Regions from separate parts of the Homo sapiens genome. Here region 1 is linked to region 2. The links come from fine-mapping of genetic effects on gene expression. A gene starts in region 2. The other region holds a variant in brackets. All regions are shown on one strand. Distances are between the middles of the regions.

Region 1 (14,617 bases), 22 kb before region 2:
GACACAGCGAGGTCCTTGTCACAGACACAGCTGTTCTAAGGTGGAGAGTCTGCAGGGCCAGCGGCTTGCTTCCGGGTGGTATTCTGAGTTGCTGCTGCTGGCGTGCCCAGGGTCTGAGGCTGGGGGTCTCCTTCACACCAGCCCCAAGGAGGCTGCCAGGGCCCCCATTTGCATCCAAGGGAAGACTCACCCACCACCCTCCACACACATGGGGTTGGGTTTTTTTTTGTTTTTCTGAGACAGGGTCTCACTCTGTTGCTCAGGCTGGAGTGCGTTGGCGAAATCTCGGCTCACTGCAACCTCCACCTCCCAGGCTCAAGCGATTCTCCTGCCTCAGCCTCCCGAGTAGCTGGGATCACAGGCGCACACTACCACGCCCCGGTTAATTTTTGTATGTTTAGTAGAGACAGGGTTTCACCATGCTGGCCAGGCTGGTCTTGAACTCTTGACCTCAGGTGATCCACCTGCCTCAGCCTCCGAAAGTGCTGGGATTACAGGCGTCCGCCACCACACCCGGCTAATTTTTATATTTTTGGTAGAGAAAGGGTTTCACCGTGTTGACCAGGCTGGTCTCGAACTCCTATGCTCAAGCGATCCTCCTGCCTCGGCCTCCCAAAGTGCTGGGATTACAGGCGTGAGCCACCGTGCCCGGCCGGTTGGATGTTTTAATCACAAAGACTGGACCCCATGGCAGGCTGGTGGGAGCGGAGGCCACCTGTGCCCAGTGGAAGAGCCAGCACTGCAGGTTGAGGGCAGAGGCCGCCATGTAGGGGAACGGGCCCCGAGGGCAGAGCCTGCAGTGATCTCCAGTGTTCTGGGGTAAGTGGCAGCGGCTTCTTGGCAGCCCACCTGCCTTCAAGGGAGGTGCTGACGCTACAGCCTGTGACACAGCAGCACAGCTCTGCCACAAAGGACAGGGCCTCCCAGCCGCGTTTCCAGACACGGCTGCACTGGTGGAGCATATGGCCAGCTGCATGCAGCCCCAGAGGAGGACAAAGGTGCTTCTTAGACACAGGGGACGAAACTTTTGGGGTCAGCGAGCAGACTGAGGCCTGGCCAGGCCCCTCTGGGGGGCACGTTTCTGCCTGTGCTAGAAGCTGCCCAACCCCACGCCGTGGGCCTCCTCGGGGCCCAGACAGAGCCCTGGAAACCCACAGAACCGAGAAAGGGATGCTGCTTCCAGGACATCCTAATAGGCGATGAGTGGTCACGTAATGTGTGTATACTAGCTGCACGCAAATAACCCTCACCCCTCACCGCCCCTCGGAGGAGGCCCGTCTTAAGGAGGGATTTCACCCTCACCCCTCACAGCCCCTCGGAGGAGGCCCGTCTTTTTTTTTTTTTCTTTTTTTTTGAGACGGAGTCTCGCTATGTTGCCCAGGCTGGAGTGCAGTGGCGCGATCTCGGCTCACTGCAAGCTCTGCCTCCTGGGTTCATGCCATTCTCCTGCCTCAGCCTCCCAAGTAGCTGGGACTACAGGTGCCGGCCAACACGCCCGGCTAATTTTTTGTATTTTTAGTAGAGACGTGGTTTCACCGTGTTAGTCAGGATGGTCTCGATCTCCTGACCTCGTGATCCGCCCACCTCGGCCTCCCAAAGTGCTAGGATTACAGGCGTGAGCCACCGCGCCCGGCCGGAGGCCCGTCTTAAGGAGGGATTTCACCCTCACCCCTCACAGCCCCTCGGAGGAGGCCCATCTTAAGGAGGGATTTCACCCTCACCCCTCACAGCCCCTCGGAGGAGGCCCGTCTTAAGGAGGGATTTCACCCTCACCCCTCACAGCCCCTCGGAGGAGGCCCGTCTTTTTTTTTTTTTTCTTTTTTTTTGAGACGGAGTCTCACTATGTTGCCCAGGCTGGAGTGCAGTGGCGCGATCTCGGCTCACTGCAAGCTCTGCCTCCTGGGTTCATGCCATTCTCCTGCCTCAGCCTCCCAAGTAGCTGGGACTACAGGTGCCCGCCAACACGCCCGGCTAATTTTTTGTATTTTTAGTAGAGACGTGGTTTCACCGTGTTAGTCAGGATGGTCTCGATCTCCTGACCTCGTGATCCGCCCACCTCGGCCTCCCAAAGTGCTAGGATTACAGGCGTGAGCCACCGCGCCCGGCCGGAGGCCCGTCTTAAGGAGGGATTTCACCCTCACCCCTCACAGCCCCTCGGAGGAGGCCCATCTTAAGGAGGGATTTCACCCTCACCCCTCACAGCCCCTCGGAGGAGGCCCGTCTTAAGGAGGGATTTCACCCTCACCCCTCACAGCCCCTCGGAGGAGGCCCGTCTTTTTTTTTTTTTTCTTTTTTTTTGAGACGGAGTCTCACTATGTTGCCCAGGCTGGAGTGCAGTGGCGCGATCTCGGCTCACTGCAAGCTCTGCCTCCTGGGTTCATGCCATTCTCCTGCCTCAGCCTCCCAAGTAGCTGGGACTACAGGTGCCCGCCAACACGCCCGGCTAATTTTTTGTATTTTTAGTAGAGACGTGGTTTCACCGTGTTAGTCAGGATGGTCTCGATCTCCTGACCTCGTGATCCGCCCACCTCGGCCTCCCAAAGTGCTAGGATTACAGGCGTGAGCCACCGCGCCCGGCCGGAGGCCCGTCTTAAGGAGGGATTTCACCCTCACCCCTCACAGCCCCTCAGAGGAGGCTCGTCTTAAGGAGGGATTTCACCCTCACCCCTCACAGCTCCTCGGAGGAGGCCCATCTTAAAGAGGGATTTCACACATGCTGTCAGGCAGGGTCAGCCCCGAGGTCTGACCAGGTGGCAGCCTCACTGTGCCCGCCACATGTGCGTGGATCGAAGCTACCCAGATGCAGTCAGGGGTCACGGCTGTGCAGGCTGAGTCCATCTGGGCGGCACAGGCCTCCATTCTGCATCCCAGCATGGTGCAGAGCACAACCCTCTCGGCCACACCTCGGCGCTGCCGAGACCTTCCCCTGCTTTGCTCTCCTCCCCAGCACTGGTACAATCCAATGCCCCGCACCTCCCAGCCAGTTCTGTCTCTGCACTCTAGAACACAGGCCCCACGGGGGTCGGGATGCCTGCCACCTCCTCGTGCCTGGCTTGGCACGCAGCGGGTTCCGAGATGAGCCGACCCTCTTTCAGGTTTGGTAGGGCAGGTTTGCAGGCCCTACCAGAGAATGCATGTTTCTACAAGTGTGGGGAAGGACTGGGACCTGGCCTCCACCACCAGGAAGAGCAGCCCCCACGGCTGACAGGACACACCCCTACCCCAGGCGAGACACAGCGCTCACTCACCTCCAGGGAACATGGTGAGCGCCTGCTGTATCAGGAGAGAGGCCTTCTGCCTGGCAGAGCTCTGCTCACACTCAGGGAGGTCTGTCTGCTGGCTCAGCAGGAAATACGCCAGTGGAACAGAGAAGGCAAAATTAGGGAGCTGGGACAGGTTCCGATGAGCCTACGAGGGACGAAGAAACAGAGCGTGGAGCCTTAAGTCATAAAGACAAAATATGTGAGTTTGCAGACGCTCTGACATCACCAGTGAGCCCTACCCCGAGCAGGTATATTCTGCAGGCAACGCAAGGGCCTCTTCCTAACTCAGCATAAAGATAACTTAAAACGTCCACCTGGGGGGCTTTCCGCATGCAGAAGATACAGAGGACGTGGGAGGGCCTGAGAAGTAGACTGAGCCGGAGCGAGGACACCGTGGGGAGTGAGGGTCCCACCTGCCGCCCAGGCTCCTCTCTGAAGCTGAGCAGTTGGTGCTCTCAATGTGGAAAATTTACAGACGAGAGCAGCCCACCCCCGCGCGAGTCTGTGAGAGCAGCCCACTGCCGCGCGAGTTTCCGAGAGCAGCCCGCCACGCGAGTTTCCGAGCAGTCTACCACCGTGCCAGTTTCTCTTGCCTTTCTCAGCCTATGTCACATATTGTAGACATGTGACTCACTGCATTTTTTTCTATCAAAATGGGATCACAGACTCACAGTTTTGTGACCTTAAACACCATCATCAACATTCTTCTGCAGCCCCATTTTGGGGGACTCCCTGAGGTTTCCCTGCACCTACATTTTTGTGAGCTCCAGGAATTTCTATAAACCACATTCCTGGGGGTGAGACTTCCTGGCCAACTATGCCAAATGCTTAAAAATTCAAAATAATTTACCCACTTTCATTATCCATGAACATGTGCTATGAAAAAAATTCAACACAGAAGCAGAGAAAGTCAAGAGCTGTCGCCTTCTCCCCAGCCCCAGGCCCTGCTGGAGGTTAGCGTTACAAAGCCCGTGTCCTTCCAGATAAGTGCTGCCCCATAGGAACATAATGGGAGCCCAGGTGTCAATTTAAATTTTCTTTTTTTTTTTTTGAGACGGAGTTTCACTCTGGTTGCCCAGACTGGAGTGCAATGGCGCGATCTCGGCTCACCGCAACCTCCACCTCCCAGGTTCAAGCGATTCTCCTGCCTCAGCCTCCCGAGTAGCTGGGATTACAGGCATGCACCACCACGCCCAGCTAATTTTGTATTTTTAGTAGAGACAGGGTTTCTCCATGTTGAGGCTGGTATCAAACTCCTGACCTCAGGTGATCCGCCCGCCTCGGCCTCCCAAAGTGCTGGGATTACAGGCGTGAGCCACCATGCCCGGCCCAATTTAAATTTTCTGGGAGCTGCATTAAAGACAAAACAGGTGAGATTAATACGTTATATCTAACCCAATACACCGAAATTATCATTCCAACACGTGTCTGTGTTAGAGTTACTGGGGACAGAGCTCAAGTCTCTCCTGCTGTACTCACACTCTTCCCATGGAACAGGACAGACGTGCTGGGGGTCCCTGTGTCAGCCCCACGCAACCAACCCTCCTTCTACCTCCCGGCTGCATCTTCCTGAACTGCCCATGAGGAGCTCGGGAGTTGTCGGTTTTTCATCATTACCAGCATCACAGTCCTTGCAGGCACACGTGTGCATGTGTACACACGTTTGAGCATGTGTACACACGTATGAGGATTCTGACATAAGGCTGCTGTACTGTCCCTAGGAAAACCACATTCCACTCCGTAGAGGCGGCAAGGGAGACAAACAAGGCAGGAGGACGTGGTTCTGCCCTCAGACGATTATCGTTTCATCCCCAAACGTCCCCTGAGCGCACAGATACTGAACCAAGAAAACAGAAGGAGAAGCAGGTGTCCGTCCCTCCACGGGGCCTCACCAGGCTCGCACCCACCTCCCACTCCTGGAAGAGGCGGATCAGGTACTCGTAGTTCCGGGCCCGCAAGGCCAGGTGGTCGATGAGCAGCAGCATGCAGAGGGGGTCCTCATCCGGCTCGAGACTTCCGGAGGCAGCACAGAGAGCAGAGCAAAGGGGAACAGGGGCATCGTCAGGCTGAGAGTGGGCCTGCAGCCAGGACAGGGAGCGTGGACGGGCTTGGCCCTGAGCAGACACTCACCTCAGGATGAGCTTGCAGTACTCCAGCGCCGTGCGCGGGCAGCCTCGCTTCTCCAGGAAGCTCATCTGCTTGTAGAGGGCCAGGTAGAAGCTCCTAGATCCAAAATAGTTCCACATGAATTACAACGACACAAAGGAGAATGCTCTCTGCTCAGCGCCCCGGCCAGCACCCACTCCACCCCGCCCTCTGCTCAGCGTCCTGGCCAGTACCACCCATTCCACCCCACACACTGCTCAGCGCCCCAGTCAACACCCGCTCCACCCCACACACTGCTCAGCGCCCCAGTCAACACCCGCTCCACCCCACACACTGCTCAGCGCCCCAGTCAGCACCCGCTCCACCCCACACACTGCTTAGCGCCCCGGTCAGCACCCGCTCCACCCCCATTCTGCTCTCTGGGTTCTGCTGGCATTTTCTACGTGCCCAGCACACAGAGATCCATGTCTGGAGAGGAGGTGTGCGCTCTCCTTGTCCTTTACAGAGTTATACACGAATTTGCATACTGAAAATCAAACTTCTTTGAAATCTTTTTTTTTTTTTTGAGACGGAGTCTCGCTCTGTCACCCAGGCTGGAGTGCAGTGGCGCTATCTCGGCTCGGCTCA[T/C]TGCAAGCTCCGCCTCCTGGGTTCATGCCATTCTCCTGCCTCAGCCTCTCCAAGTAGCTGAGACTACAGGCACCCGCCACCACACCCAGCTGATTTTTTGTATTTTTAGTAGAGACGGGGTTTCACCGTGGTCTCGATCTCCTGATCTTGTGATCCACCTGCCTCGGTCTCCCAAAGTGCTGAGATTACAAGCGTGAGCCACCACGCCCCGCTGAAATCTTTATCTTGTTTTTTTGTTTATTATTTATCATTTACAGGAAGAGAGTTAAAATCTCTTGTTACAATTACGATCTTAATTTATCCTCCAATCTCAACAGTGGCTAACAGCACTCAGGCTGGATACATGGAGCCCTGTGACTTTCGGATGCTGGTGGGCTGCTACTTCCATCAACAGCCCACTGTCTCTTTCGCGTCGGGAAATATTAATATTTTATAATCTACTTCAAAGAACTAAGAATTTCATTGGAAGAGACAAAACTAACATAAAGAAAACCAGTGGAGGAAATTCAGACCCAGCACACAGTGCAGACAATCTGTGCAGAACGGGTCAGCGGACCTTGGCTTGCCAGGAGGGCTGAGAGGGTAGGAGCGGATCCCACACTGCAGACAACCCAGGGCGGCCAGAGAAACAGGGCACTGCACACAGGAGAGGCAGGACAGCGGACAGAAGCTGGTCTGCTCCACAAAGGGCCCACAGGACAGGCTGCGGGAAGGCCTGGCGGAAGCCAGTCTAGGTCTGACCAGCGAGGCCTGATGCCAGAGGGATGGCTTTAGGGGCAGAAGTATCTGAAAGAAGAGAGACCTCCACATGCGGTCGCTCAGCACAGGGGAGCGAGGGTCAGGCTGACTCTGAGCTCCTCACTGATTTAAGGTCAAACCTGCAAAGCCTTCCAAAGCTTCTAAACTTGCCAGGGATGGGTTTTCTCAGCCAAACATAGAAGGAAATGCAATTGCAGAGCCCACTGTGGAGATCTGGTTTCTCAGGCTCACTTCTTCTTCTTCTTCTTTTTTTTTTTTTGAGAGACAAGGTCTCACTCTGCTGCCCAGGCTGGAGTGCACTGGTACCATCTCAGCTCACTGCAGCCTCGACCTCCTGGGCTCACTTGAGTGATACTCTCGCCTCAACCTCCCAAGTAGCTGGGACCACAGGCACGCGCCACCAGGCGCAGCTAGTTTTTAAAATGTTCTGTAGTGGCCGGGCGCGGTGGCTCACGCCTGTAATCCCAGCATTTTGGAAGGCCGAGGCGGGTGGATCGCAAGGTCAGGAGATGGAGACCATCCTGGCCAACACAGTGAAACCTCGTCTCTACTAGAAAATACAAAAAATTAGCCAGGCGTTGTGGCACGTGCCTGTAGGCCCAGCTACTCGGGAGCCTGAGGCAGGAGAATGGCTTGAACCCGGGAGGTGGAGCTTGCAGTGAGCCGAGATCGCGCCCCTGCACTCCGGCCTGGGTGACAGAGTGAGACTCCGTCTCAAAAAAAAAAAAAAAAAAAAAATGCTGTTTTGAGACTGCATGTTGCCACGGTGCTCAGACTGGTCTTGACACCTGGGCTCAAGCAACCCTCCCACCTCGGCCTCCCAAAGTGCTGGGATTACAGGCGTGAACCACTGTGCCCAGCCAGGCTCACTTCTAACACAAACATTTATTTTTATTTTTATTTTTTTAAGAGATGGGGGTCTCACTATGGTGCCCAGGCTGGACTTGAACTCCTGGGCTCAGCAGACCTCCCACTCTGACCTCCACAGTAGCATCAGGCATGTCCACAGACAAAGGTAAACCTGGGCTGAGACAATCCCATCCCTCTATCCTTAAGCCCAGAGAGAGGAAGGTGGGTCACTCTGGACCTGTGGGCCCTGGTCCACCCTGGAGGGCAGCCATGAGGTGCCCACTGCACCTCCCCCAGCCTCACTCGCAGGAGAAGGGAAGGGGAGCTGCGTCACCTCCAGGGCAGCTGCACTCACCTGTTCTCGGGTCTGCGGTAATCCAGCCGGCAGGCCCCACTGGTGAGACTGAACAGGGGGTGGAACGCACATTCCATGCTGTACAGCGCTCTCTCTGTGGGCACAGGGACGCCAGGGGAGGGTGTCATGGCCACACACAGCAACCACGGCCCCTCCTCTGATAATGGACAACAAGGAAAGGTCTGGACGGAAGGTCACGAAACTAGAGTCCTGGACACTGAGAGGGCAGACATGCCCCTGGGCACCCTGGATGCCACGCTGCATTTATTTCAACCACAGAACTTGTGAGCTTGACATGGTAACACTTTCAACACCATGAGGCACAACTGCTGCCACGTCCTGACAGAACCAGGCGTCCATGTGTGCAGCACAGATGTGTCCACCTAAGACTGCGTGTGCATGCTGACGTAAGCACTATTATTTACAACAGCCCACACGGCCGTCAACTAATGATGGATACACAACATGTGGTCCGTCCACACAGTGGAGTATTACTAAGCCATAAAAACGAACGACGTTCTGATCGACGCTACAGTGAGGATGAACCTTGAAAACTTCATTGTAAATAAAAGCCAGAGGGCGGGGCGTGGTGGCTCATGCCTGTAATCCCAGCACTTTGGGAGGCTGAGGTGGGTGGATCACAAGGTCAGGAGATCGAGACCATCCTGGCCAACACGGTGAAACCCCATCTCTACTAAAAATACAAAAAATTAGCCAGGTCTGGTGGCGGGCGCCTGTAGTCCCAGCTACTCGGGAGGCTGTGGCATATATTAAACACCAACAAACAAAAACTTTAAATGGGTAAGTTTTGTGCTACGTAGGTTGTATCTCAATAAAGCTGTCATGGATATCCTGGCAACCCCTGTCATCTTACACCATCGCATCTGTCTTGATAGCTTGAGGTGCTCCCACAGCTGAGGGGAATGGGGTGGGGGCTCTGCCTTACCTACGAGGTCTCGAGCCATCTCCTGATCCTCTTGAAAGCGGCAGGCATCGCTGAGCTGCAGGAGTGAGTCAACGTGGTAAGGGCTCGTCTGGAGCAGAACCTACCAGAAGGGAGGACAGCCCTGGAGGAAAGGCACTCAGCAAGGCCCCAGCTCCCAGGCATGCCTTTTTTTCAGACATTTAAAACCAGCGGAGGCTGGGCGCAGTGGCTCACGCCTGTAATCCCACCACTTTGGGAGGCTGAGGCAGGAGGATCACTTGATATCAGGAGTTCAAGACCAGCCTGGCCAACGTGGCAAAACCTGGTCTCTAATAAAAATACAAAAATTAGCCGGGTGTGGTGGCGTGTGCCTGTAATTCCAGTTACTCGGAAGGCTGAGGCAGGCGAATCGCTTGAACCCGGGCCGAGACTGCGCCAATGCACTCTAGCTTAGGCGACAGAGTGAGATTCCGACTCCAAAAACAAAAACAAAAACGGGGGAATTACCGGGTCGACACTCACAACGTCCCCCCAACTCAAAATAGGCTAGTTATTATTGCTAAGCTGAACCAATTATATGACTTAAAGCAAGAACTCAGAACCTGACATGCCCAGGCCAGGGGCCACCTAACTCCCCACTAAGCCCCAAGAAAGAGGAATGGAAAGCAGCAGCCTGCTTTTCCCACAGGGAGATGACGGGGAGCTCTGCGGAGGCTGTCCGGGGTTGCAAGGGGAGCTGTCCGGCGGCTGCGTGAGGGCCGCCCGGGGGCTGTCTGGGGCTGCGCGGGGGCCGTCCGGGGCTGCAAGGGGAGCTGTCCAGGGGCTGCATGAGGGCTGTCCAGGGTTGCACCGGGGCTGTACGGGGACTGTCCAGGTCCGGGGCTGTCTGGGGCTGCGCGGGGGCCGTCCGGGGCCGTGTGGGGGCCGTCCGGGGGCTGCACGGGGGCCGGGAATCTGAGCTGCTCGCCTGCACTGAGCCGCAGGAGGCAAGGGCAGCAGTGAGAAGCCCCAGAGTCCTGGGCCTGCATCACACGGCACTACTGCGACGGTCCCCAGGAACGGCTGAGAGAGCAGCGCTCCAGCCTCTCCTCTGAGTATGGATGGAGCTCGCTTGGCCTAGAGCCTCCGAACACATCTCCTTCTGGTCACAGGGCCAGACCGCCCTGCAGAGACTGGCACCCTTCCTGTTGGGAAGGGCAGGAGGCAGCATGCCTCCCCCAGCCACCAGGGAAGCAGGCGGCCCAGGGCAGTGGTGGCTACATGGCCCCTGCTCCTGTCAGGGGCTGCAGGGACCACGCACCACGATGTTGTTCGGCTCCATAGACTCCACGGCCACCAGGAACTTGTGCTGAGCCTGCTGGTACTCCTCACTGTGCTCAAACGCAAAGAAGGAGAGGCCTTTTTTTGATTCCAGCAGCCGCATGGACAGACCTGGGAGGGGAGAGTGCTCAGGGAGGGTGTGCCGGGAGCAGGGACGTGGGCAGCTCCGAGCACAGCCCTCACCTTCGTGGTGTTCTGGATGAGGCCTCTGCGATATCGACAAACTTGACCTGAGTGTGTACTCATGGGTGTCACCAGCTCCGGACACCTTCCCAAAACACCCGCCGTCTGGTCTACACCAGGAGACGGCATCCCGTCTGCTTTAGTTTCCTATCAAGACGTGTTTGCCTCCAGAACTCGGATACAGCTCTAGCCCCACTGGCCTGGAGGGAATGTCAGGGACAAGGACACACACAGTCCACAGATCGCCAGATCTGACCACGCCGAGCACTGTCCCCAGACCACGTCTGATTGAGGAGAATGTCCGGGGTGGCTGTGGAAGGACAGGGTTGGAGTGCGGTGGCACAGGTGGCCACAGCGCCAGGCCTCTGAAGCCACAGAGCTTTGTAACGTGTGACCACCCTCTCACTTGGCTCCTCTTGTCTGACTGGGTGTATGGGACCCAGTTTCTTCTGATAAACCTGGAAAGCTCAGCCTCCCAGGACCTCCATGGACTAGGTCCCCTGTAGTGATACCTTCTTGATGGCCCTGCCCAAGGCCCCAGTCCTGCAGGAATACATGGCCATGGAACCCCTGTCTGCAGTGAGCAGGGGTTCCTGCCAGGAAGGGAAGGGGCCGTGAGCAGCGGGGTTCACCTTCTGACAGCACAGGCCTCGCTCCTAGATGTGTCCTTACAGAATGTATGCAGGCAATCTCCGGCACCCCCACAGACACAGGCGCAGGAGAAGCGGCCGTGGGAGCCATGGCAGCGCTGACAGCAGCAGCCATGCCGATCACCAAGGGCACCACACAGCTCCCTTCCCACAAGCTGTCCTTGCCCTGGCCCCTGAGGGCCCCCACAGTTCAGCCACTGCAGAGTGGAGGCCAGTGTGGAAGGCCTCCTGACACTTCCCCACACCACACAACCAAGCACCCAACACTCCATGCCTGTCTTCACTGTTGCAATTCATCTTAAAATCACTTATTAGTTTGCAATAATATACAAAATATTGCAGTTTAAAATGAACTCGATTGCTTCCATAAGGGAAAGGTCGATGGCAGAATGGTAGGAAGAACCTGCGTTAAAAGACAGTCACACAAAGACTGTGCCTGGGAGGCTCCGTGTTGAGGTACTGGGCCAGGCCTCCAGCACTCAGGCCCTCAGTGTGGCAACAAACAGTCACACACTGCACACTCCTGGAGCGCTCCTGGAGCAAAGAGTCTCGGCTCAAGAGGCACTGACGCCCCTGGTGCCCAGCGCAGGCCAGTGCACAGAACACACCCCCCCGCCGCCCTCCACCCCCAGCAGCCTCTGCAGACCCTCACCTGGTTTGCTGTACCGGGGCCAGTGCACAGACAACGCCCCCCAACCCTCCATCCCCAGCAGCATCTGCAGACCCTCACCTGGTTTGCTGTAGCGGGGCCAGGTGCTTTTAGGGGTGGTCAGCCATGTGCACTTGGGGTACACACGTTGTCTCTGCCGTGGCCTGGGGAGAACGGGACACAGGTACAGCTTTACTTCCTGTGGCGTGTGGGGACCAAGGCTTGGCTGCCTGATCCCTGCACGGGCTGTGGAAGCAAAACTGAGGGGCAGAGAAGGCATGTGGGGCAGGGTGGGGACGCATTAAGGACAGGATGCAAACAAGCGTCAGCAACTGCTGTGGGACGGGTGCAGCAGGGAGGGCCCCATAGAGAGAAAGAAACAATTCTGGCTGGGCACGGGGGCTCACACCTGTAATCCCAGCACTTTGAGAGGCCAAGATGGGAGAATTTCTTGAACCCAGGAGTTCGAGACTGGCCTGGGCAAGACAGCAAAACCCCATTTCTACAAAGGGTTTTAAAAATTAGCCTGGCGTGATGGCCTGCACCTGTGATCCCAGCACTCCAGCCTGGACGACAGAGCAAGGCCCTGTCTCAAGAGGAAAATAAAAAAAGAAAACGAAAAGAAAGAGAACAACGTACTAATATCCACATGCCCATCACTCAACTTAAGAAACCAACCATCTCTGAGGTAACAGCAGCTCCATGCCTTTTCCATGCTGCCCCACCTGCCCAGCTCAGATACCAGCTGACCAGTGCTTAGAGTGGGCCTGACCCCTGTGGCAGAGACCCCCAAATAACAGAGGTCAGGGCACTCTGCCTGAGCACACAGGCACCAGACAGGTGGGGCGTGGCAGCCGCGGCAGCACAGACAGCAGCAGCCATGCCCACGGTCACCATCAGCACGGTGCAGCTCCCTTCCCACGGGGCCATCCCTGCCCTGGCCCCGGGCTCCCCACAGTTCAGCCACCGCAGAGTGGAGGCCAGTGTGGTGGGCCCTCCTGACATGAAGGTGGCCCCAGCCTGCTTCTCCTGCCTGTAGCACACGCCCAGGCCTAGGAGAGTCAGCCCTTCAGCACTCTCCTGGGCCAGATGTACAGAATCCCAGGGATGGCCTGACCTGCGGTGAGCTATCCCACAAAACAAGTAAGGAAGCCTCCAGAACAGACCCAACGAGGCAGCCTGGGCAGATGCCAGGAGGGGGCAGGGGACAGGAGCCTGGAGGAGCTCTGAAGGCTGGCAGGCGCCCTGAGCAATGGGAGGAGTGTGCTGAAGTGCGGGGGCGATGAGCTGACCGGGCTGTCGTAGTAGGAAGTCAAGGACCCAAGAGAAAGCAGTGCCTGTTATTCTGAGCTTCTGAGAGAACCACCAGAAGGAGAAATGGAAACAGGCCAGGTCTTTGTCTTGGAGGAGCAGGACAAGGAATGAATAAAAAGGAAACTGTGGCTTCTCCATGTAAGTCTTTTGGTAGGACTTAAATTTTTAAAGAAATAAATAAACAAAAAAGTTTAATAATACTATAAAAATAATAAAGGCAATTATTGTCAACTAATTACTACGAGTAATCAGTATTAACAGTTATAATACTAATTACTATTAATAATTATAATTTGCAGAAATAAAACCATGCAAAAATATAAAGAAATGACCAAGACAGACCAAGCAGATGCAAACAAAGGGTGGGACGAGGTGGAACCCTCAGCTCAGAGAAATGCAGATGACAAAGTGACATTTTAAAGTCTATTTTTAATTAATATTCCCGAAGAAACCCATCAACACCAAAAATGTAAAGTAAAATATAAAGCAAAACCTGTTAGAAATCCAGGGAAGGCGTGAACAACAGCATATGAAAACATCCTTGATCTACCCACAATCAAAACCCCAACACTTCTGCCCACACACGACGGCAGGTTTCCAAACCACTACCGTCGACTACGAGTAAGAAGGTGAAGGACCTGGGCAGACACTCAGTGTGAGCCACGTAACTCTACTGAAGGCACTGGCAGCATGCAGGATATATACTCATTCTTGGGCAGTTTCACAGAAATGCCTGCAGACACCGGGGACTGTAGCCAACATCTGGACACATGCTACCATTGGGGTGAGGAAATGACCTGGGTATACCATGGTGCAGAAACAACACTTAGGCTGGGTGTGGTGGCTCACGCCTGTAATCCCAGCACTTTGGGAGGCCGGGCGCAGTGGCTCAGGGCTGTAATCCCAGCACTTTGGGAGGCCGAGACTGGCGGATCACTTGAGGTCAGGAGATCGAGACCAGCCTGGCCAACATGGTGAAACCCCGTCTCTACCAAAAATACAAAAATTTGCCGAGCATGGTGGCACTCGCCTGTAATCCCAGCTACTTGGGAAGCTGAGGCAGGAGAATCGTTTGAACCCAGGAGGCGGAGGTTGCAGTGAGCTGAGATCGCACCACTGAGCTCCAGAGCCTAGGTGACAGAGCGAGACTCCATTTCAAAAAAAGAAAACAATGCTTAGAACTCAGACGTGCAGACCAGGCACGGTGGCTCACACCTGTAATCCCAGCACTTCGGGAGGCTGAGGCGGGTGGATCACCTGAGGTTGGGAGTTCGAGACGAGCCTGACCAACATGGAGAAACCCCATCTCTACTAAAAACACAAAATTAGCTGGACATGGTGGCACATGCCTGTAATCCCAGCTACTCAGGAGGCTGAGGCAGGAGAATCACTTGAACCCGGGAGGCGGAGGTTGTGGTGAGCCAAGATTGAGCCATTGCACTCCAGCCTGGGCAACAAGAGCAAAATTCTGTCTCGAAAAAAAAAAAAAAGAACTCAGACGTGCAAACCCAGGGCATGTTATAGACCAGCAATACTCTCCATGGTCCAATAAAACAGGATGTGTCTGGCTGGGCGTGGTGGCTCATGCCTGTAATCCTAGCACTTTAGGAGGTAGAG
Region 2 (14,617 bases):
TGAGTCCCAGCTACTCAGGCGGCTGAGGAGGACTGCGTGAGCCCAGCAGTCCTGGAATCTGGAACCTGGAGTGAGCCATGATCACACAACGGCACTCCAGCGTGGGCAACAGAGCAAGACTCTAGCTCTAAATTTTTTAAAAAAAAAGCTAACAGAGACCAGCATCAACAATTCTTTATGAACTAGGAGATTCTGATGGATCCAATCGGATGCACTAAGGTTCAAAAATAAATAAAACTGCCTGTTTAATTTAAAACATCTTGAAAACCACAAACCTCAGAAAACACAATCAGCTCCAAGCCCCATAGCCCTGAGATAGTTTCTGAAACAGAATTGAGACTCGGCTGCACCTGGGAAGACAGACACCCCGGCTGCGGTTGCTGAAGAGAAGAAAGCACAGGGCAGGTCTGTGCTTGCCGGTCAGTCGGCTTTCTCTCCAATGGAGGCTCCCACATGACAAGGATACGATTCAGGAGCATCTTAAACGCCCGCTGAGACAAGTCAGGAGCAACTTACGCCCGTTGAGAAAATCCATGGCAGTATAGACGTGTTATGTAAACAGAGCCCCTAACTTGAAAACACTGACACTCCACCAAAACGAGGTTTGTCCCATCCCAGCAGCACCATGATGGTGATTCTCATGGTGATGCCTCCTTCTGCCTGGCCTTTGCTGGCGAAGCTGGGGCCTAGGCATGGGCCGGCTGCCTTGCACCCTGCAGTAAAGGAAGAAAGCTGAAACAAAGCCTATTGTTGAAATGTTTCTAACCTGTGGGTGGTCACTGGTAAATTGGATCTACACCATCTCCAACATTCAACTAATGATGATGTCTCTTAGTGAAGCTGGGTGCTGGTTTACTTGTCTGTTTTTAGAGATAGGGTCTCACTGTGTTGCCCAGGCTGGCCTCAAATTCCTGTGGTCAAGGGATCCTCCTGCCTCAGCCTCCCCAGGAGCTGGGACTACAGGCACACGCCACAACACCCAATTTACTTTTTTTTTTTTCTTTTTTTGAGATGGAGTCTTGCTCTGTTGCCCAGGCTGGAGAGCAATCGCATGATCTTGGCTCACTGCAACCTCCGCCTCCCGGATTCAAGTGATTCTCCTGCCTCAGCCTCCCGAGTAACTGGGACTACAGGCATGTGCCGCCATGCCAGGCTAATTTTTGTATTTTTAGTACAGATGGGGTTTCATCATGTTGGCCAGGCTGGTCTCGAACTCCTGACCTCAGGTGATCTGCCCGCCTCAGACTCCCAAAGTGCTGGGATTACAGGCGTGAGCCACCGCGCCCGGCCAACACCCAATTTACTTTTATTAACTCATGCTGACTTCCTAAGAAAAAAAATTCTTATTTTGAGGTGTTTGACAAATCGAATTCATAAAAAGCTCTATGCCAAGCTGAACTTCAATGGAAAGGAGCCTGTGTACACGGACAGCACGCGTGATGGGCTCAGGAGCCTGCCTGTGTACACAGACAGCACACATGATAGGCCCGGGAGCCTGTCTGTGTACATGGACAACACGTGTGACAGGCTCTGAAGCCCATCTGTGTACACGGACAGCACGTGTGATGGGCTCAGGAGCCTGCCTGTGTACATGGACAGCACGCGTGATAGTCCTGGGATCCTGACTGTTTACAAAGACAGCACACATGATAGGCCCAGGAGCCTGTCTGTGTACACGGACAACACGTGTGACAGGCTCCGAAGCCCATCTGTGCACACGGACAACACGTGTGACAGGCCCCGAAGCCCATCTGTGCACACGGACAACACGTGTGACAGGCCCCGAAGCCCATCTGTGCACACGGACAACACGTGTGACAGGCCCCGAAGCCCATCTGTGCACACGGACAACACGTGTGACAGGCCCCGAAGCCCATCTGTGCACACGGACAACACGTGTGACAGGCCCCGAAGCCCATCTGTGCACACGGACAACACGTGTGACAGGCCCCGAAGCCCATCTGTGCACACGGACAACACGTGTGACAGGCCCCGAAGCCCATCTGTGCACACGGACAACACGTGTGACAGGCCCCGAAGCCCATCTGTGCACACGGACAACACGTGTGACAGGCCCCGAAGCCCATCTGTGCACACGGACAACACGTGTGACAGGCCCCGAAGCCCATCTGTGTACACGGACAACACGTGTGACAGGCCCCGAAGCCCATCTGTGTACACGGACAACACGTGTGACAGGCTCCGAAGCCCATCTGTGTACACGGACAGCACGTGTGACAGGCCCAGGAGCCCGTCTGTGTACACGAACAGCACGTGTGACAGGCTCTGAAGCCCGTCTGTGTACACGGACAACACGTGTGACAGGCCCCGAAGCCCATCTGTGCACACGGACAACACGTGTGACAGGCCCCGAAGCCCATCTGTGTACACGGACAGCACGGGTGATAGGCCCAGGAGCCCGTCTGTGTACACGAACAGCACGTATGACAGGCCCCGAAGCCCATCTGTGTACACGGACAACACGTGTGACAGGCTCTGAAGCCCATCTGTGTACACAGACAGCACGGGTGACAGGCCTAGTTTTGCTTCTTCAGTGAAGTTTTGGTGATGACACATGATTTGCTGCAATCTCTACTGCCATGCATCAGCTCTAAAATGCTGTCAATCACCGTCAGACAAACCTTATTACTGGCTGGGCGCGGTGGCTCACGCCTGTAATCCCAGCACTTTGGGAGGCAGAGGTGGGCAGATGGCGAGGTCAGGAGATCAAGACCATCCTCGCTAACACGGTGAAACCCCGTCTCTACTAAAAATACAAAAAAACTTGCCGGGCGTGGTGGTGGGCGCCTGTAGTCCCAGCTACTCAGGAGGCTGAGGCTGGACAATGGAGTGAATCCAGGAGGCAGAGCTTGCAGTGAGCTGAGATGGTGCCACTGCACTCCAGCCTGGGCGACAGCGCAAGACTCCGTCTCAAAAAACAAAACAAAACACCTTATTACCTACCCAAAAGCTGTGATTTTCATTAGTTTTAGGGTCTCAAATGGGGAACATTTCACAAGGTTCTTGTCCACGACTGATCTTCTTTAGGATAAAGCTCGATCAGCATTTCAGTTAATAACCAGGAAGGAGTTTTATCTTTTTTTAGGGGGAGAGGAAAATGTCCATTTTTCCTAAAAAAAAAAAAAAAAAAAAAAAATGGTGATTTTTAATAGAGACGGAGTTTCACCATGTCGGCCAGGCTGGTCTCGAACTCCTGACCTCAGGTGGTCCACCCGCCTTGGCCTCCCACAGTGCTGGGATTACCGGCATGAGCCACCGCACCCAGCCTGAGGTTGTCTTTTTTTTTTTTTTGAGACAGGGTCTCACTTTGTCACCCAGGCTGGAGTACGGTGGCGTCATCTCACCTCACTGCAGCCTCGACCTCCTGGGTTCAAGCCATCCTCCCGTCTCAGCCTCCCGAGTAGCTGTGACCACAGGTGAGTGCCACTATACTTGGACAGTTTTTTTGTATTGTTTGTAGAGATGGGGTTTTGCCACATTGCCCAGGCTGGTCTCACACACCTGAGCTCAAGTGATGGATCTGCCTTGACCTCCCAAAGTGATGGGATTACAGGTGTCAGCCACCAACCCTAGCCTGGAATGTTTTATACTTTAAAAAATTCAGTATCTTTAATAGATAAAAGGGCTCAGATTTTTTTATTTCTTCACATGTCAATTTAGATAAGTTTTATCTTTAAAGGAACTTGCCCATTTGTCTAATCTGGAAAATTTATTAGCAAGAAGTTCCTTATCGCCCGTTACTATCTGCACCATCTGTACCTGTGAACACTCCTCTCCCATCCCTGAAAATGGTAACGTACCTGGACCTTCCCTTTTTCCCTCCATCAGTCAATCTAGAGTTTTTGCCAACTCGTCTTTTGAGAGAACCAAGTTTCGGTCTCACCGATTCTCTCCATCGTGTCCATACTCTATTCTGTGCATTCCCCTCTTTGATTAGTTTCTTCCTTCGACACATTTTGAGTTTAATTTGCTCTTTTTCTAGTTTAAGGTAGAAGTTTCAGGTAAATTTCTAGATTTTTAAACACTTTTCTAATTTAAAATTTACGATGATAAAGTTCTAATCATCGTTTCAGTTGCATCCCACAAATTTTGATAGGTTGCTATTTTCATTACCAATCAGTTCAGAAAAGATTCTAGGCCAGGCATGGTAGCTCACATCTATAATCCCAGCACACTGGCTTTCAAAAAAAATTGAAAAAATTAGCCAGGTGTGGTGACACCCACTTATAGTTCCACCTACTTGGGAGGCTGAGGTGGGAGGATGGTTTGAGCCCAGGAGTTCAAGATTACAGTGAGTTATAATTGTGACATTGAACTCCAGCCTGGGCAATAGAGCGAGACTCTGTCTCCAAAAAACCAAAACACACACACACCCACACACAGCAAAAACTGACAGGGTTGAAAGTAGAAATAGACAAATCCATAATTATTATTACGATTTATTTATTTATTTATTTATTTATTTTTTTGAGACAGAGTCTCGCTGTATTGCCCGGGCTGGAGCCTGGTGGCACAATCTCAGTTCATTGCAACCTCCACCTCCTGGGTTCAAGCAATTCTCCTGCCTCAGCCTCCCAAGTAGCTGGGATTACAGGCACCCACCACCATGCCTGGCCAATTTTTTTTTTTTTTTTTTTTTTTTTAGATGGAGTCTCGCTCTGTTGCCCAGGCTGGAGTGCAGTGGCACGATCTCAGCTCACTGCAAGCTCCGCCTCCTGGGTTCACGCCATTCTCCTGCCTCAGCCTCCTGAGTAGCTGGGACTATAGGCTCCCGCCGCCACACCCGGCTAATTTTTTTGTACTTCTTTAGTAGAGGCGGGGTTTCACCGTGTTAGCCAGGATGGTCTGGATCTCCTGACCTCATGATCCGCCCACGTCGGCCTCCCAAAGTGCTGGGAATACAGGCATGTGCCACCACGCCTGGCCCAATTTTTGTATTCTTAGTAGAGATGGGGTTTCACCATGTTGGCCAGGCTGCTCTCGAACTCCTGACCTCAGGTGATCTGCCCACCTCCCAAAGTACTGGGAGCTGCAATTCCAGCACTTTGGGAGGCCAAGGCGGAAGGATCTCTTGAGCCCAGGAGTTTAAGACCAACCTAGGCAACATAAAGAGATCTTGTCTCTAAATAAATAAAATTTTTTAAAAAGAGAAACACCATGTCTCTCACCAATGCATTCACATTCATAACCATTTAGTCGTAACTGGCTGTTTACTGTCTCCCATACTTCTGTTTATTAAGAGCTATTTAACAGAATGCCAATAAACATTTTGATTATATTATTTCCAAATATGAGTTTTAAGAGCAAAAAAGTATGGAATGCTTAAATTAAGACTGATGTGTGCCACTGGATAAAATTCTCTGAAATTCCTAAGAACACAGCACGATAAGCAGTCATTCATCCATGGAGGCTGTTAGTGTTACTGACACTCAAACTCACTCCAGAAAGTCCACAAGGGTTTGTGTGGTTTCTGACCTTACAGACTCTTACTCTGTCAACTCATGAACCACACTTTTTCCAAATTCCCACCAACACAAATATAAATACCAAAAAGATTAAATATTTAAATGGGAAAAAAAAAGCATTAAAAGAACAAGCTGAGCATGGTAGGGTATGCTGTAGTCCCAGCTGCTCAGGAGGCTGAGGCAGGAGGATAACCTGAACCCAGGAGTTCAAGACCAGCAACCAGCCTGGGCAACACCGTGAGACCCTGTCTGTAACCAAAAAAAAAAAAAAAAAAAAAAAAAAAAGCCAGGCGCAGTGGCTCACGCCTGTAATCCCAGCACTTTGGGAGGCCGAGGCAGGCGGATCACGAGGTCAGGAGATCGAGACCATCCTGGCTAACATGGTGAAACCCCATCTCTACTAAAAATACAAAAAATTAGCCAGGCGTGGTGGCGGGCGCCTGTGTTCCCAGCTACTTGGGAGGCTGAGGCAGGAGAATGGCGTGAACCCAGGAGGCGGAGCTTGCAGTGAGCCGAGATCATGCCACTGCACTCCAGCCTGGGCGACAGAGCGAGACTCCATCTCAAAAAAAAAAAAAAAAAAAAAAAAAAACTCACGTCAGGGAATATCTATGTGAAGACACTCTAGAGAGATGGATGTGTAACAATGAGAAAAGTGGCTCCAGTATCTTTCAGCACGCAGAAATTAAAGAAGTTAAAGAACAAACACAAACCGAGAAAATACGTTAGAGACAATCGATAGCAAGCTTCCACGAGCAAAAAGACTGTCCAAACCCCCTATAAAAAGGCAAAGATATAAACAGGTTGTCACAAAGAGAAATATAAATGGTCAACGAATACATAGCTAGGTGCTGCATTTCACTACCAAAGAAGTGTAAAATAAAATAATGTGATATCATTTTTCACAAATTACATTGACAAAAATTTAAAAAGACTTACGGGGCCAAGCACAGTGGCTCATGCCTCTAATGCCAACACTCTGAGAGGCCAAGGTGAGAGGACTATTTGAGCCCAGGAGTTCAAGGTTGCAGTGAGCTAGGATTGTGCCAATGCACTCCAGCCTGGGCAACAGAGCAAGATTCCATCTCAAAACAAAAAGCTTTCAGTAACTGCTGTGAATCTAGCAAATTACTGAACCTTGACGGGGGTCTTGGGGACCACTAAAGGTGGACTTGATGCGAGAAGGGCAGTCAACCAAGCATGGTGACTCACGCCTGTAGTCCCAGCACTTTGTGAGGCTGAGGTGGACAGATTGTTTGAGCGCAGAAGTTCTAGACCAGCCTGGGCAACAAGGCGAAAACTCTTCTCTACAAAAAAGAAAAAAAAAAAAAATTAGCCGGGCGTGGTGACATCCACCTGTAGTCCTAGATACTCAGGAGGCTGAGGTGGGAGGATCGCAGAGCCCGCAGAGGCAGAGTTACAGACGGAGGCCAGGGCTTAGGAGAAAACGTCACAGGACCGCATGAGCAAACCATACAGTCAAACTGTTACTTCCCTGTGCCAGAAACGAGCTGCCGGAGATGCAGCAAAGAGTAAGACTAATCCGCTGGGTTAGGCTGATGGGGATGCGCGAAGAGCAAGGCCCTGGGTTAGGCAGAGTTGTTGTGAGGATTAAAGCAGAATGCTCGCAGAGGCCTGGCAAGTCCTCAACCCTGGAACCGAGAGAAGGCCCCTCTAGACTCGAGAAAGGGAAGCCCCACCCGACTCCTGCCCCTACGCCGTGGCCCCACCCCCACGGTGGCCCCAGGCCTCATTTAACCCCGCCCACGCCATCGCCTCGCCACCCCCCCGTCTTTAGCCACGCCCTTTAGCGTCACGGCCCCACGACAGCCACGTGGCCGCAGGCCCATTTAATCCCGCCCACGTCGTGGCCCGGCCCCGCGGACGTTGGCCACGCCCTTGGCATCAAGGCCCCGCACCCTCCACAACCCGGACCCCGCTTAACCCCGCCCATTCGGTCGCCCCGCCCCGACAGCACGGCCCCGCCCCATCCCTTAGCCCCGCCCACCTCACCGGGGTTAGAACCCAGTCTAACTCCGCGGCCCGCCGTCTTCACCCCACGCCACCGCCCACCCGCGTCGCCCTGGCCCCGACGCACGGCCCCGCCCTCCCCACTGCGGCTGGGACCCACGTCACCCTTCCCACCCCTGGCATCACAACCCCGCTCCCCGACCCGGCTGGACGCTCGCCCCGCCCCACAACGTCAAGGGCCACCCCACCCCCACCCGGGCCGCCGCGCTCCTCACCAGCTCGAAGCGGTTGTTGACTCGGACGCCCTCCTTCCCTGCGCCCCCGGGACGCCGGACACCAAGCTCCCGCTTGGGCCCTTCTTCTTCCGCGTCATCGTCATCACGGAGATCGAAATGCAAGGCGCCGGGCCCGAGGGGCTCCTGGCCGCGCTGTTCCCCCCTCAGCCTCCGGAGGGCCCGGCGCGACATAGGACCGAACGACCACGACGTCTGGAGAGAGGGAGAAGGAAGCGCAGAAAACTCGGCTGTCGGCGCGCCTGCGCACTCTTCGCGCGGGGTCGGGGGCGGGGGAGCTGGCTGCGCGCCTGCGCACTCTTGGCGCGAGGGGTGGGGGCAGGACCTGGCTGCGGCGCCTGCGCGTCGCGGCTCTCCGGAACTTTCCCGCTTCAGCGGCGGCGTCTGGGCGGGCTCCGGGGGGTCCGGGCCAGGTCTCTGGAGAGCTGGGTGTCTGCGCGCCGTGCGCACCGGGCATGGAGAGGTGCCCCGCGGGGATGACGGGCTTCGATTCGGGGTAACGGGCGCGCAGCCGGCGACAGTCGGCCCTGCCCGGCCTTGCCCATCCATGTGGCCCGGAACCCGCAGCCGCGTTCTGCCCGCCGGGGCCTGTCCCCGCACCGTGCCTGCAGCATTTCAGCTGCGTCCCGGACGTTGCTAGTTGGTCCTTTTCGTGTCAGGGTGTCATTCGAGTGATCTAGCCGTCGATGCCCGCCTCTGCCCTGGAGCCGCCGCCCCTCGAGCAGCATTGAGTGACGCGGCCCTTACTGCCCGCCCGAGGCCTCTTTAGGGACAGTGGTTCTGACAGTTCTAGGACAGGCCGCCCGCGTTTGTCACGATCTAAGGGCCGGGCGCGGTGCTCACGCTTGTAATCCCAGCACTTTGGGAGGCCAAGGTGGGCGAATCACCTGAGGTCGGGAATTCGAGACCAGGTTGGGCAACACGGTGAAACTCCCTCTACTAAAAATACAAAAATTAGCTGGGCGTGGCTGCGCACGCCTGTAATCCCAGCTACTCGGGAGGCTGAGGCTGCAGTGAGCCGAGATCGCGCCACTGCACTCCAGCCTGGGCGACAGAGCCAGACCCTGTCTCAAAAAAATGAAAAAAATAAAGTAGATGAGGCTGAGACAGTGCTGGGTTCAGTGGGCGGAGGGCACAGCTTCCTGTGCCTGGGGTTGGGGACATGGGGACAGGAGGGCATAGAGAAGACAGGTGCCAGCAGCCTCCTGCCCGACTTACTGCGGCTTCATGAGCACAAGCAGCAGCCCTGGTGAGCCGGCCTGGCCCCTCCCAGGATGGGTTAGGGTTTTATTTTATTTTGTGAGATGAGGTCTTGCTCTGTTGCCCAGGCTGGAGTGCAGTGGCGCAATCTCGGCTCACTGCAACCTCCATCTCCCAGGCTCAAGCACTTCTCCTGTCTCAGCCTCCCGAGTAGCTGGGACTACAGGCATGTGCCACCATGCCCGGCTAATTTTTGTACTCAGTAGAGATGGGGTTTCACCATGTTGGCCAGGCTGGTCTCGAACTCCTGACCTCAAGTGATCTGCCCACCTCACCCTCCAAAAGTGCTGGGATTACAGGTGTGAGCCACTGCACCTGCCGTGGTTTAGGGTTTTAACGTGGGCTTTCATTTCCAAGTGTTCCTGTATGAATTACAACCCAGTCTCCCCATGATAGGGAGTGTGAGTCCCCGTAGAACCAGAACAACCGTCGTCCTTACCAAGCACTACACATTAGCTTATTGCTGGCTGTGTGACCGGAGGAGTTCCCTGACCCTCTCTGTGCCTGTTTTCTTATTTTTAAACAGGAATAAAAATACAGGCCAGAGAGTCCGTGAAATGCTTACACGCATGCTAGAAGCTGGCTGTTTTTACTGGGGGCTCTAATTTTGTGTGTTTGGATTTCCTGGACCCCAGCTGACAGGAGTATTTTCTCCCGCAGGCCCATCAGTTACAAGTCCTGTCCCTTCTGACCTCCAGGCCCCACGGCTAGCATTACAGCCTGGAGTCAAAGTTCTGGGTGAGCTGTGTATCTTTGGCCAAATTCTTTGACCTCGTTGAGCCTCAGTTCCCTCATCTGTAAGGTAAGATGACGGCAGAACGTCACGGAGGAGCAGGGCAGGGCCCCGTTAACAGGCTGAGCCGGGCGCAGGTGAGCAGACAGCACTCGGCACAGGGCCTGTCTAGAGCCTGCAGTCACACCTCCTGCCCCTGTGGATCCTCTCCCTGGAGAACGAGAATACGGATCTGGGAAATGAGACCAAAGTACCCCCCAGGCCAGCAGGTGTGGCCAGAGGAGCTGATGGGCAGTAGTCTGTGCCGTCCGCATGCAGCCCTGACCATGGTGGCCAGGACCACGAAGCTGGTAGAGGCAGCCAGGGCTGCGTGGACAGAGCAGGCCTGGAGCCCTTGCCTGGTGGGCACCTGACTCTAAGCCAGGAGGCCTTTCCTCGTCCTGGAAGGCAGGTGGCCCCTCAAGCCCAGCTTCAACCTTGGGAGAACATGCCATGCTGGGTGAATCCTCAGCGCACATCCCAGACAGAAGACTGTGAGACCTCCTTTATTAGGCCAAGAGTGGCCATGTGCACAGATTTACAGAGCTGCTCCTCCCTGTGCCAGGACCGCCCAGCATCTTCAGGAGCCTCTGGGCCAGGGGCGAGTGAGGACAGCACCAGAATGTGGTAGGGCCAGGAGAGGCAGGACACATGTGGTTTGGACCCCAGGGAAAGGGAAAGGGCAAGGGCAGGGAGCAGCTTGGCACGGACCTTTTTTTTTTTCGAGACAGAGTCTCGCTCTGTCGCCCAGGCTGGAGTGCAGTGGTGCAATCTCGGCTCACTGCAACCTACACCTCCCGGGTTCAAGCGATTCTCCTGCCTCAGCCTCCCCTGTAGCTGGGATTACAGGTTCCTGCCACTATACCTGGCTAATTTTTGCATTTTCAGTAGAGACAACATTTCATCATGTTGGCCAGGCTGGTCTCAAACTCCTGACCTCAGGTGATCCTCCCTCCTCGGCCTCCCAAAGTGCTGGAATTACAGGCCTGAACCACCACGCCTGGCCAGACCTTTCAAACAGGTGGGGGTGCCTCCCAGGAGGACCCTGCCTACTCAGAGACTTCCCAGATGCCTCTGCTGCCTGAGTCCCCACAAAGGGAGAGCAGAGGCAAGCAGGGCACTCTGGTCCAGCTGGGAGCCAAGATACCCTGTCCCCACCTAGACGTCCACTGGGGAAGGGAAACTGCCGTTCGCATTCCTGGGGACGGAGAAGAGCATGGGAACATGGGATGCAGTCTGTGCCAGGATCTAGAACCTTCTGCTTTCTCTCTTCAGTGAGAAAACCCACCCTGTTCCCTCCCCTTCCTCCCTGGCAAGGAATCCTGAGAAGAAACAGCCTCCCCCAGGGAGGGTTTTGAAGTGCGCCTGAACCCAAATGAGCTCTGGGGCCAGGAAACAGTGTATATAAATATATAGACTGTGTGTATATATTATAAATGTATCTATATATGTATATATGTACATGCACAGCTCAGAGCGTCCTAGCCTGATACAGGGCCTGCCTGGTGCCTCCTGGAGGCCTGGCCACCTGGGGCTGTCACTTGAAGTCAAGAGTCCTGGTGTTAGGGATGTAGAGGGATTGGGTCTGGCGACTGCGTCGTGGCGTAGTGTTGAGGACGTCCACGCTCTTGCGGCTGGAACGCACCACGTCTGCCACAAAGCTGGTGCACTCACTGCAGACATCCTTCAGGACACAGCCGTGGGAGTAGATGTGGGGGAACGCCTCCTCCACGCTCTGCCACTGTGGCCCTTGCAGAGACCTGGGAAGTGGGAGAGGGCACTCAGGGAGAGGAGCCAGCCAGGGTGCCACACCCCCCTCCCTGCTTGTGCATGCCACAGCCCCCTCCTGGCTGCCTTTCACCCTAGGCCTCCCCTTGGCCCTCAGGCAACAAACACAGCTAGCAGTGTTCATCTCAGCAGACTGTTCCCTGACCACCCAAGTCCAGTTTCCATCTCATACTGCTCAGCCTCCCAGAGCCCTACACAACGATCCGTCTCTGCCTTGCATTTCCATTTCCTTGGGGTGTCCTAGCAAACAGACAAAGCCAGCCCCCTCCACCCCAGCTCCCAAGTTCCTCTTCACGCCCGACCACCACAGTGACATCAGCAGCAAGGCGAAGAACGCACTGAAAGATGTCTCTTCTCTGGATTGGCGCGGTTTTGGCAGCTGATACCCTCTGAGGACTCTCAAAGCCCAGTGTGTAGACAGGGATGTGTCCAAATTTCTTAGAAGGCATCTTCATCTGCAGCACAGAGGGAGGAGGTATGAACCAGGCACCACCAGAGACATTCAGGTACACTCAGTGCTAGGGGACCTCCCTCCCCAGTCTGGGACCTGCGTGGCAGCCAGGGCTTCCTGGAGAATATTCTCTGTCCCTGTGCTCTCCGATGTCTCCTCTGTGCCTTTTGGCTGAAGACTGGCACGGGGTTCCTGCTTGCTGCACATCTGGACAGGGGCTTCTTAGAGCGCAAGAACCGTCCCTTTTTATACCATGCGGGACCTGCCACGTTTCCTGCTCATCTGGACAGGGGCTCCTTAGAGGGCAAGAACTTTCCCTTTTTATACTATACGGGACCTGCCACCTTACCCTGCACATAATCAACATTTAACATGGATGAGGTGGAAGTTTTTCCATTGCCAAGTGGCAGGATGTAGAGTAAGATTTAAAAATAGTGGTAGTAAGAGTACTCCTTAAGCAGAGTTTTGCTTCTGAACTGAGGCCTGAGGGGTAACATATATATATATATATATATATTTTTTTTTTTTTTTTTTTTTTTAAGACACAGATCTTGCTCTATTGCCCAGGCTGGAGTACAGAGGCACAGCCATACTCACTGCAGCCTTGAATTTGCTGGGCTCAAGAGATCCTCCCACCTCAGCCTCCCAAAGTGCAGGAACTGCAGGCATGAGCCACCGCGCCTGGCTGGTGACATACTTTTATTTGTATTTTGTCTTTTTGAGACGGAGTCTCTGTCACCCAGGCTGTAGTGCAGTGGCACAATCATAGCTCACTGTGGCCTCCACCTCCCGGGTTCAAGTAATTCTCATGCCTCAGCCTCCTGAGTAGCTAGGATTACAGGTGCGTGCCACCATGCCCAGCTAATTTTTTTGTATTTTTAGTAGAGATGGGGTTTCACCATGTTGGCCAGGCTGGTCTCAAGTGGTCCGCCAGCCTCACTGGCCTCCCAAAATGCTGGGATTACAGGTGTGAGCCACCGTGCCCAGCTGACATACTTTTAAATGTTAGGATCCCTTTACCTCTGTGCACCTGCACATAAGCACACACCTCAACTGCAATAAGAAGCCCCTCCTAAAACACCCAAAAAGTTATAGAATGTAAGAAGGTAGGACTTTTAGAGGGGAAGTGAAGGGTTTTTTGGCACGAGGCTACTAACGTGCAATGTTTAAAAACAAAAACCTGTAAGGGTCTTTAAAAACTGCACACTATCTTGGAAAGTATAGGAATGGATTCTGCCTGAAAGGAAATGGATGAGGTGCCTGGTGAGGCAGCATCATCCAACACATCCAATCAAAGCCAGTGGAGCCCCTCATCTGCCTTGCTCAGACCCCAGAGATCCCACATGGTCCTCACCTTTATGCTACAGGAAGTGCAGACGGCTCTGGAAGGGAACAGAGGAAATGCAGCATCAGCAGGGAGGAAGCCCACAAACAGCTGAGAAACAGTCGCATCCCGGCCTCCACGCATCCGAGGTCAAACCATCCTTGCCTTCTGCCTGATGCTTGGTTACTTCAGTACTTTATTTTACTCCAAAATCTTGCTTTTCTTTATACTTAGGTATCCACCCAAAATATATGTGCTCCTTGGCATTCTCTCAGGAAGGATGGCTCCAGGAGTTTTCTCCTGCCAAGTTTTCTATTGCCAAGTGGTAGGATATAGAGTAAGGTTTAAACATAGTGGTGGTGGGCCAGATGTGGTAGCTTACGCCTGTAATCCCAGCACTTTGGGAGGCCAAGGCAAGTGGATCACCTGAGGTCAGGGGTTTGAGACAAGCCTGACCAACAAGGTGAAACCTCGTTTCTACTAAAAATACAAAAATGAGTTGGGCGTGGCAGCAGGCACCTGTAATCACAGCTACTTGGGGGGCTGAGATAGGAGAATGGCATGAACCTGGGAAGTGGAGGTTGCAGTGAGCTGAGATCACGCCACTGCACTCCAGCCTGGGGGACTGAGCGAAACTCTGTCTCAAAAAAAAAAAAAAATGGTGGTAAAAGTCCCTCTTAAGCAGATTTTTGTTTCTGAACCAAGGCATGATGGGTCTTTCTGAACCAAGCCATGATGGGTCACATACTTTTGGAAAGTTTAAAAACAAAAACCTACAAGGGTCTTTAAAAACTGCACACTGTCGGCCAGGCGCGATGCCTCACGCCTGTAATCCCAGCACTTTGGGAGGCCAAGGCAGGTGGATCACGAGGTCAGGTGTTCAACATCGGCCTGGCCAAGATGGTGAAACCCCGTCTCTACTAAAAATACAAAAAATTAGCCGGGCATGGTGGCGGGCACCTGTAATCCCAGCTACTCGGGAGGCTGAGGCAGAGAATTGCTTGAACCCAGGAGGCGGAAGTTGCAGTGAGCCGAGATCATGGCACTGCACCGCAGCCTGGGTGACAGAGAGAGACTCTGTCTCAAAAAAAACAAAAAGCAAACAACAACAACAACAAAAAACAAAAAAAAAACTTGCACACTGTCTTGGAAAGACATCTAAGATTCCTTCTAAGAAGACGTGTAGACATTGGTGTGTACCTGACACTACTCACCATAAAAGCACCATGGAAGCTAGAGGGGCCTCAACTGAGATGCTCAGTTTTAAACAGT

The links. PIP is the estimated chance that this variant, and not a neighbour inherited with it, causes the effect.
Region 1: its variant is fine-mapped to the expression of TCF25 in whole blood (TOPMed, PIP 0.95).

What each region holds. Positions count from the first base shown.
Region 1 is chr16:89,889,426-89,904,042 of GRCh38, reverse strand. TCF25 (TCF25 ribosome quality control complex subunit) reads right to left here. Exons shown (of 18, transcript NM_014972.3): 6 at 11,768-11,850; 7 at 10,185-10,315; 8 at 8,906-9,005; 9 at 7,960-8,053; 10 at 5,394-5,486; 11 at 5,171-5,276; 12 at 3,249-3,408. Among named protein-coding and RNA genes, the nearest start is that of MC1R, 22 kb to the left of the region's middle. The variant T/C (reference allele first, on the strand shown) is at 5,997.
Region 2 is chr16:89,866,975-89,881,591 of GRCh38, reverse strand. It overlaps TCF25 (TCF25 ribosome quality control complex subunit), which reads right to left and starts at 8,000. Exons shown (of 18, transcript NM_014972.3): 1 at 7,733-8,000. The coding sequence starts at 7,924. SPIRE2 (spire type actin nucleation factor 2) reads right to left here. Exons shown (of 15, transcript NM_032451.2): 13 at 13,376-13,403; 14 at 11,910-12,025; 15 at 10,273-11,542. The coding sequence ends at 11,320. It overlaps LOC112268179 (a long non-coding RNA gene), which reads left to right and starts at 8,104. Exons shown (of 2, transcript XR_002957933.2): 1 at 8,104-8,624; 2 at 9,671-11,215. RefSeq lists enhancers at 1,418-2,087, 8,356-8,515, 8,286-9,242 and silencers at 7,216-7,685, 8,156-8,275.